Linked DNA regions of Homo sapiens. The protein of the gene in region 1 interacts with the protein of each later gene in a pairwise test. Each region holds a gene or a part of one and is shown on either strand. Other genes may lie near its edges. The genes, in order: PRR23E and ROR2.

Region 1 (2,853 bases):
GAGGTCCTGCTTTGTGGGGCAAGCATCTGTCAAGGATGAAGTGCTCCGGGACCTGTCTGCCCCTTCAGCAGCCCCTGCACTGGGGTGGCCCCTGTGGATTTCTGGCTTTGCTGTTCCTTCATCTGTCAGCTTAGGGGCTTTGCTGAATCTTTAACTCTCCCTCCAGCAGGTCTCCAACAGACTTGGCCATCCATACTCTCCAGTCTTTGGTCTCTGTGACTTGCATAGAGGGAAGCATGAGGAACTGAATTTGGAACTTGTTTTGATGTCCCTAGAAAATGCCTCACGTGGCTGCTGTGCACCCCTCCCACTGCAGGGGCCACTCGTTCCTACCCAGGACACCTTGCTCCCCATCCTCCCTGGAGATGCCTTGATCTTGGCTCTTCTGTCACCTCACCCCCAGCTGTCCCCCTCCTCCCATCCCCTCCTGTGCGACCTGGTCTCCCTGCCCTCTGACTGGCTGTCTGCTCACCCCACAGATACCAGGAGCCCCGTGAGGTGCGTGTGGCCTCAGCTTGCAGAGGAGTGCACTTGCCAGACACTTCGGGGCTTTGAAGAGCACAGCTCATCTAAGATGGGCACAGGTGCATCAGAGAAACAAGCAGAGCAGAAGGTCCGCCGTGCCTTCGAGGCCTCCGAGGAAGCCCACGGGACTCTGGCAGCCTCAACCCCCTGGGTGGCCATGGGCTCTGCCTATGGTTCCTGTACCTGCTTGGGAGCCCAGCCTGTAACTGACCTGGCCCTCTGGCCTGTCATCTACTCCTGCATGGGATTTTCCCCACAAGCTTACCCAGCCTTCTGGGCTTACCCGTGGGTGCTCTATGGTGGGTATCTCTGGATGGGTTATCCCCCTCCAGCTGCCTTGGTGCCTTCAGTGTGGCTGTATTGGAGGGGCGCCTCCAGCTTTGACCCCCTCATAGGAAGTCCGTATCTGGCTGCCTTGGCCCCCAACCTATTTCCTTTCCCCATGAAATTCCCACCCACCTACTCCTTGGCTTCTCCCACTCTGGGCGGGGCCACCTCCAGCCACTGTCCCCAGGTGGGATGCTGGACTCCAGCCAGCTCAGCCCCCAGGGCTGCCGTAGAGGGGCCATCCAGAGGAGCTCCCTACTTGAAGACATGCAAAGCCCCTCCCTCAGAATGGGCCTCCAGGTTCGGTATTTGGGCACCTTTGCCCTGCTGCAGTTCAGAGCTCCGCCCTCTGCCCCCTTCCCCCATTGAAGATTCTCAGCTGGACCCGGGCTGCTCCCGCTCCTCCTCCCGGTCACCCTGCAGGGCCCGCCGCCGCCTCTTTGAGTGCTAATCAGCCCTCTAGACCCAGACCCACCCAACAATCAGAGACATGTCTGGTGGAGCCCAGCCAGCTGTGGACTTTAAGTTTTTGGAAGAGTCTCAGATGTAGGTTGTTTACTATTCTTCAGTACAGAGTACACCTCCTGGACTCATGCAAGGCCCCTCTATTTGCTATTTCTCTTTACTTTGTTTTTCTGTTTGCCCTTCAACCCTGATACTGGCACCTTTTCTCCTCCCCAGACTGTCCTGGGCCCGCCCTCTAGTAGATTTGCTGTGAGTCCTCAAACATGCATGCATGCAACCTTGTAAAATGAGCTTATTTAAGCTCAATCCAACCTGTAGAAGCGCTCAGTTAGAATAGGCCTCCAGGTTTGGTATTTGGGCACCTGTGCCACCCTCCAGCCCAGGACTCTCTCTGCCCCTCCTCAGCAAAGACCCTCAGCAGGATCCCCGCATCCCTGGCCACCCTGTGGGGCCTGCTGCTGTCTCTTCCAGCATTGGTGTGTCCTCCAGGGAACCACACACTCAAGCACTTTGGAACCCATGGAATCCAGTGAGCACGTGCTGTGGGCTCTGCCTAGAAGCTTCCAAAACCTGTTTGTTCCAGTGGACACAGAGTAGGAAATGCTGACTCGTTCAGAGCGCTAGTGCCCTTGGGTCCTTGCGGGTGTGCTCTTCTCACTCCTCACCCCATCAGCACCTTCTGGGGTAATGCACACACCAGTAAAATGTACAGTGCATGCTTTTAAAAATTTTTAAATAAATGATACTATGCTATAAATCATGTTTTCTCCAATTTTTCATTCATTAGTTTAAGACCTAGCCATATCTGTATATATGTATAGTGTATTTTGCTTATTCAAATTTATTAGCGTGTTTTCCATACTATTTCTTGCTGTATTTCTTGTTATGTGCTGTATTCCATTTTTCTTTAAAATTTTATTGTGTATATTTGAGGTTTACAACGTGATGTTATGGGATACATACAGGTAGTAAAATGGTTACCATAGTGAAGCCGACTAACATCTGTCATCTCACGGCTACTTTTTTTTGGTGATAAGAGGAGCTAAAATCTACTTATTTGACAAAAACCCCTAGTACAATGCCATTTCATTAGCTTTATTCCTCATGCTGTACCTTAGAGCTCTAGGCTTGCTCAGCCTATGTATATTTAGTATCCTTCGACTTACATATCCTGGTTTCCCCACTCCCAGCCCATGGGAACCACTGCTTCTTTCTCTATCTCTGTATTTTAGCTCTTTGTTCTGTTTTAATATTCCACATATAAGGGAAGCTGTGCAATTTTTTTTTCTGTGTCTGACTTATTTCATCATTCTCCATGCATGTTATGGCAAATGGCACGATCTCCTTTTTAAAGGCTAAATAATACTCTATATCCATTATATATATATGGATATAATCATATTTTCTTTATCCATTCATCCATTGATAGGCATTTGGGTTGTTTCCATATCTTGGCTATTGTAAATAATGCTGCCATGAACATGGGAGTGCAGGTATCTTTATGAGGTGGTGATTTCATCTTTTTTGGGTACATAC
Region 2 (7,298 bases), on another chromosome or scaffold:
TTGTAGAGACGGGTTTTTGCCATGTTGCTCAGACTGGTTTCAAGCTCCTGGGTTCAAGAGATCCACCCGTCTTGGCCTCCCAAAGTACTGGGATTACAGGTTGTGAGCCACCGCACTGGGAGATAATGTTAATGGAGAAACAAAATGTCAAAGTGAATATCCCAGGACCATCCATACATGGGAAAAGGGCTGATGGAAGGGGGTGGGCCAAAACGCAAACAAGTCACTACTGGGTGGTAACATTAGGGGTGATCTGACATTACTCTTCAGACTTTTCTATATTTTAAAATGTCTTGTAATGGTCAGATGTTACTTTCATAACAACCAATAACTTGCGTTATTTATTTATTTATTTTTGAGACAGGGTCTCACTCTGCTGTCCATGCTGGAGTGCAGTGTCACAATCTTGGCTCACTGCAACCTCCGCTTCCCAGGCTCAAGTGATTCTCCTGCCTCAGTCTCTTGAGTAGCTGGGATTACAGGCATGTGCCACCGCACCTGGCTAATTTTTGTATTTTTATGGGGTTTCACCATGTTGACCAGGCTGGTCTTGAACTCCTGACCTCAAGTGATCTGCCCACCTCGGCCTCCCAAAGTGCTGGGATTATAGGCATCAGCCACTACGCGTGGCCCAACAGCTTTATTTAAAATGGTCACTGTGGTAAGATCAGGGGTCTCTGGTCGCCACCGTACAGAGGCACACCCCAACCCAGGTCAGGACAGAACGCCCTCATCACAAGGTTCACTCAACAATCAACACATTAAAAAAAGAGAGAGAGAATACATACTACACGAGGGTACGTCACACAGTTCCATGCGTACGTTTTTATTCTGCGTAAAGCACCAGGGGCCCTCCATCTGGCCTCCGGGGTTCCGGCAGTAGGCGTGCCCCCCTCCAAGCTCAGGGAAGTCTGTGCTGGACAGGTGGTGGCTGTGGGGGTGCTGCAGGGCCCACGGCTGGCACTGGTGGCCTGACTTGGTGGTGCTTGCCGTTCCTCTGTAATCCATGCCTGAGCCGTTATAGCACTGATGGTCTGAACAAGGAAAACACGTTAGGAAAACCTCCGGGGTACAACAAAACCATTCTGCCTACACATGCCCAAACTAGAATTTCCAAAAGATCCAAGGATTTTACATAACTTACCAGAAAAGAGGCATTAAAAGTAATGGCTTAATGAAGTCCCAAGCCCACAAATTAAATGCAGGGCACATCAGGGATAGGCATGGGGAAGGAAACTTGTCTAAAGTTATTCCACAGCCCCAGAACCATCTCTTGGGACCCACGAGGCACCTGCACACCACCACCCCACCAGAATGGGGATGTCTCCCCAGCCTCAGGATCAACTTGCTCTAGGAAGAAAGCCAACTGTGCAAGCAAGAAGGGCCTGGCCCCTCCATCTCAGGACACCCTGCTCAGCCATGGGTGAGAACAGTGCAGGCCACGCCACCTCCATGGAGGAACCCTGGGGTTGGGGTGTGCATTTGGTGAACATTTCTGTAGTGTTTACCATGTGTGGGGCGCTGCTCTAAACCCTCCTGGCTGGGGCACCGTGGCTAACAAGGCGGGTGGATCACTTGAGGTCAGGAGTTCAAGACCAGCCTGGCCAACATGGTGAAACTCCGTCCCTGCTAAAAATACAAAAATTAGCCAGATGTGGTAACGCACGCCTGTAGTCCCAGCTACTCAGGAGGCTGAGGCAGGGGAATCGCTCGAACCTGAGAGGTGGAGGTTGCAGTGAGCCAAGATTATGCCACTGCACTCCAGCCTCAGTGACAGAGTGAGACTCTGTCTCAAAAAAACAAAACAAACAAAAAAACCACCTTCCTAAATATTGCCTCATTTGACCTTCATTTCAGCCCCACGGGTTAGTACTGGTGTCATCCCCACGGAATATAAGGATATGAGAGCTTAGCAACTTGTCCAGGGTCACAATGAGGGTCTGAATGCAGGCAACGGGCCCAAGGACCAGGCCCTGGCTGGTCCTGGTAAGGAGTCCTGGCCATTCCTGGACCCCCAGATTAGCCAACGATGCTAAATACAGCCCCGGAGCTGTGGCGGAGGTGGCCCGTTCCCTAGGTCTCACTCCTCAGGGAGGCAACAACCCGTATGGATGCAGTGATGTCAGCCAATGGTTTTCCTCGGAGACATAAGCAGCGCTCCCTGTCCTGTGTCTGCCATCCTGACTGGCCATGGCCACCCTGCTGGGGCTCACAACTTGGGGTTTACTAAGCCTCCAGAGGGCAGGGGCTGCTGCCAGCAAGAGGGGCAGTGGGGAGCATGCTCTTCGTCCTGTGCAGACCCCAAACAGGCCACACCCAGGCCCCGGGCTCAGAACTGTCCCCCTCCCCCACGCTCATCCCTTAGGCCCCACGATTCAGGGACCTGTAGAAAGGTGCACGGTGCTTCCCTGTATTTCCTTCCCTAGTGATGCCTGATTGTTACAGGTTCTTCTCAGGTGCCCTCCCAGGCCAGTCCTGCAGCATCTCCGTGGGCCTCACATTCATCCAAGGCTAAGGATCCTACAGGTTTCTGGGGACTGATCCTCCAGGTTTCAGGAGGTTGGGGCAGGAGTTGAGAGTCTGCATTTTCGCCTGGCGGCCCGAGTGCGTGCTGACCGTCGGGCAAGTTAGGAAGCTGGCCCTGTCTCCTCTCATGCCCGCAACAGCCATTTCCACAGGAAGTGAGATCACTCCCATTTCAGAGAAGGGAAATCCCAGGCTCAAGCAGGTGGAGGGACTTCACCTGAGTCCCACAGCTGGACACAGTGCAAGCCCACATGCGAGCCTGGGGCTGAATGGCTCCAAAGCCCCTGATCCGAGGCCCCGCCTGCTGCCCTGCTGGAATGGAGGCCTAGGCTGTGGGGCCCTCGGCTGCTAAGGGGGTTCTGTGGGGCCTGGACAGATGGGGCTCCCTGGGCTTCACCGACACCCCCATACACATTTCAAGGGCCCTACACTCCCTGCGCCCCCCGGTCCCGCCCCGGGCCCTCGGGCACTCACAGCGGCCCAGCCTCTCGGCTGGGATGCCAATGCGCATGCAGTTGGCAGCGTCGGGGCTCTCAGGCATGGGCAGCGCCTCACACTTGGGCAGCTGAAGCCGCATGAGGATGAGCGGGTTGGAGCGGGCGATGGTGTACTCCTGGCGGCACAGGTCGCTCTCCAGCACCTCGCACTCGTCGCGGCACAGCTCACGCGGCTTGGGTGTCCGGGAGCGCGCGTCGCACAGAGGAAACACGAAGTGGCAGAAGGATGGGATGGCGAACTGTGAGCACTGGTCCGACAGGTGCGTAGACGTGCCGATCATGGTGAAGGCCGCTGCAGAGCCCGCGAGACTCGCGTTAGCGGGGGACCCACCTTGCGCCCTTGACATTCATCCAGTCCCCACCCCCAGCCTGGCATCCCAGACTGCCCACTCAGCCCCCTGATGCCCCGCCCCGCCCCAGACTCCCCAACCCCGAGCCCCGCACACCACCCTGGAGAGGCTCCCCACCAGCAGGCCAGCCTGCCCATCACCTGCTCTGATTTGCAGCAGTCACAGAAAAGTCCCTGGTCCCAGGGCCTCACTTAGAAACATCAGAAGCAGAACAAGAAAGAAGGAAAACTCGGCCCCCTAGCTCACTCCGCTAGGTGCTTCTTCCAGGACAAGAGGGTTCAGACTTCAGATGCAAAAGCAGATCCTAAGGACCCGCCATGTGTGGAGAGCGCAGGCCAAGAAGTGCAGTACCGAGCCCCAGGCTTCCCAATGTCCCAGATCTGTCTGGGGAGAAGGCTGTCCCGGAAGAGGGAGTCAGCTCAGCTCTGTGAACTGCAGCTGGAGGAGACAGTTGGTAAAATGCGGAAAGCCAAGAGGGTGAGAGCAGCAAAGTGGGAGGAGAGCCGCGTTACAACTCTGGAAGGTTCTGTGATAAGGGGGAGCAGAAAAACCCGAAGATCCAGAGCCCCCTTTGGTAGGGCGGTTTGTTTTTTAAGGGCAAGATGTCAGAGGATGCAGTTTGGTGGTTAGAAGATGGGGTGAGTTCGGGAACAAAGTGGGGGTGTTGGGGAGAGATCTGCTGCACCTGGGGTGCATGGCTGGACACTGGTAAGGGTGAAGAAGCTGGCCAAGGCAGGGCTCTAAGGAATGCATCAGCCTGCCCTGGGCTCACTACCCCATTTTCACCTGTGAAAGGCTGGCTTACAACAATTGAGCTTGGGGACAGTGGAGGCAGACAGGCCCCTTTGCCTGCACACCCAGCAGAGGCTGTGTCCTCCAGCGTGGCAGAAAACCCAGAAGCTGGCATTTAGTCCCTGAGGAGCCCTAACTCCACCCACGAATGCAGTTCAATCCCATCATTACAGATTTGGCGATTATTTGGTGATTATACAGAGGGCTGTCAAGAATGCTGGCCTTGACCTCCAGGCAAGGAAAGCGTGTAAGTGCTGTGCCAGGTTTGGCCAGCAGGTGGCAGTGCCGCTGTCAGTCATTCCCTGGGAACCCACCCAGGAACGGGATGGGCAGCTGTGTGGGAACAGCCTTGTGCGTGATCACTTTGTGGTATCACTCATGCCTTTCCGGGCCTGTTTCTGTACCTGAAGAGTGATTTGAGACCCCACACTGGGGAATGAGAGTGCACACAGAGCCTATAAAGTGGCCCTCAGCGTGAATGGGCCCAGGGGTCTGGTAAAAGGCGGCGTCAGTGGGCGGGAGCAGCCACGCTGTCCTGATTGTGTGCAGGCACTACTGTGCTCATCACATCACCTCCCCTCCTCTGGGTTCCTGTGGCCGATATTTAAATGGAGGAACAGAGAGGGCAAGCAGTTACAGTACAGGATGTCTTGGATTTGGAGGAAGAACTGAGGCTTCAACCCTGTTCAATCCCATCATTACAGATTTGGGATTATATGGATGGCTGTCAAAAATGTAGGTAGGCCTTGACCTCCAGGCAGGGAAAGATTGTCTAAGAATGCCAAAGCTGTCACTTCTCTTGGGCTAATCCACTGATAGGATGTCTCTGCTGATCTTTATAGGATTTCTCTTTCTCCTTCTCCTCACCCTGAGAATGTACTGCTTATTTCTGAAAGTGCAATTCTAGGCACAAAGAGATCCAACAACTCACATCCTGTTATCTGTCCACACCCTGAATGTCACACAACACTTTCCAACACAACACTGCACACAACGCAGTCATTACTATGCTTATTTCAAAACCACAAGTCTGTTGAGAGCAACTTCAAATTTACTGTTTTCAAAAAGCCACCCACCTAGAAAATCTTCATTCTAAACTCTTCTCTAAAAGATGCTATAAAACCAGGCTGCTTGGATGCAAGCTGATTCCTTAAACAACTCCTGAAGAGATAACTGAGGGACAATCTTGTGCCCTGGATCAGTGCTTGCCAATTAGTAGGGTGTCTAATTAATTCTGAGAGTCTGCAGCTAGCATTTTAAAAGATGGTAAGAACAGACTAGAGGATGTCAGAATGCACGGTTCCTACTAAGGGCTCTAACTTTTTTTTTTTTTTTTTTTTTTTTTTTTTTTTTTTTTGAGACAGAGTCTTGCTCTGTCTCTGGGGCTGGAGTGCAGTGGCGCGATCTGCAACTTCCACCTCTCGGGTTTAAGTGATTCTTCTGCCTCAGCCTCCCAAGTAGCTGGGATTACAGGCACCCGCCACCATGCCCAGCTAATTTTTTGTGTTTTTAGTAGAGATGGGGTTTCACCATGTTGGTCAGGCTGGTCTTGAACTCCTGACCTCGTGATTTGCCCGCCTCAGCCTCCGAAAGTGCTAGGATTACAGGCGTGAGCCACCGTGCCCGGCCACTTTTTTATTTAATGAAATAAAACTGAAAAGAAAAATCCAAGTGCACCGCTTTTACGAAGGGTGAAAGTTATTCCCTGTAACCTATGTCAGTTGTGTGAAATACATGTATGTGTACACTAAGTCATGGCGTAAAGTATATTCTCTATTTTCCACTGTGTGTTTCGGTAAAAACCTTTGAGAAGTCCTACTTTAATGGCAAAGAAAGCTTTTGCAGTGAGAGGTAGCCATATTTTCAAAACCATCTCCCGCTGGAACAGGATGGCATCTCCAGGTTCCTCTCTGTCTCATGATGGCTCTTTCAGTTTGCACAGGACCCCCTGGCCCTGTCCTCAGAGGTCTCTGTACCAGCACATGGGCCAGGCAGTCTCTTCTGTGACCGTGAATGTGATGTTCGACTCTCTAGTCCGAGGGTGACCTGAACTTAGAAGGGCTTGTCAGTGACATGAGGTGACTTTCTGCCTTGGATCCTCATTGTCACCCCTTAACAGGTCAGTGCCCTGTATCCCCTTTGCCCCACCACACTCTCCCAGGAGCGCAGGCATCAGAGATCACCCACTGACTCTAATCTGCAGCAGAGCCTCCCGCTCCCATGGAGAGGATCCAACTAAACTGAGGTGCTGGGGCACCGGCCATCTGCACAGGATGTGTCTTGCTCCTTATGGGATCTGGAGAGAAAATGTGTATGTGTTTGTGGAGAGAGTAGAGACAGCAGGAGGAGGGCTCTGTAGGACTATTGTCTAATTAATTTTCTTCCTTTCCAAGGCCTTTCCCCTAAGAAGGACCCCGGACCCCATCAATGTGTTCGAGTTGTATGCTGGGAACTGGGACAGCCAATCAGAGAAGTTAAGTCCTAATGAGACCAAGGATGAGCAGCTGCAGTTCCTAATTGACTTGCCACTTTCTCAGACCCTGAACCAGGTACCCAAAGACGTGGCTTTGTTCTCTGGAAACCCAGGACTGACAAAGTGTGTGTTCACTGCAGCATCCCTACCACTGATGACCCGCGACTCTTTCCCCAAAACAGCTGCAATCAGGCCTGGGTGCCTTTGGACCAAACGTGGCTCAGAGAGGATAGAAGAGTCAGGAAGTACAGAATGAGAAGTCAAGCAGAGTGAGTGTGGGGGCGCTGAGGCTATCTGCGCCAGTGTGGCAGGCCCGGGGCAGGAGGCCCTGGCGTTGCAGTGAGGACAGTGCTTTGGACCCACACGGTTTGGCTGAGTTAAAAGTGCAGAAGTATATTCCAAGCAACCCACACTTGCTAATTTAAACATACAGGCCAGGAACATTTTTAGGGCAAATCATGTTAGCAATTGCCACTACTTCTAAAAAAGATCTCTGGTTTCTACCACAAATGAAATGGAAGAGGCACCCACTGACCATGCCATTAACTGATGAAACACAGTGGCCACCATCTGTGCGACAGATGGCTGTGTGCATGCTTATCATCCTGGGAGAAAGGTCTGCAGCTCCTACCTGTGATTCGGTTTTCAATCTCCCCCTGC

Evidence for each region.
Region 2: the proteins of PRR23E (region 1) and ROR2 interact in binary tests that used the Homo sapiens proteins (3 or more experiments, as listed by UniProt).

The regions. Positions count from the first base shown.
Region 1 is NC_000003.12:127,196,112-127,198,964, forward strand, and holds the end of PRR23E (proline-rich protein 23E), read left to right. Parts: intron 1-479; 5' UTR 480-574; coding exon 575-1,303; 3' UTR 1,304-2,074; downstream 2,075-2,853.
Region 2 is NC_000009.12:91,730,122-91,737,419, forward strand, and holds part of ROR2 (tyrosine-protein kinase transmembrane receptor ROR2 isoform 1 precursor), read right to left. Parts: coding exon 7,270-7,298; intron 3,316-7,269; coding exon 3,001-3,315; intron 1,035-3,000; coding exon 789-1,034; intron 1-788. UniProt on the Homo sapiens protein: Tyrosine-protein kinase receptor which may be involved in the early formation of the chondrocytes. It seems to be required for cartilage and growth plate development. Phosphorylates YWHAB, leading to induction of osteogenesis and bone formation.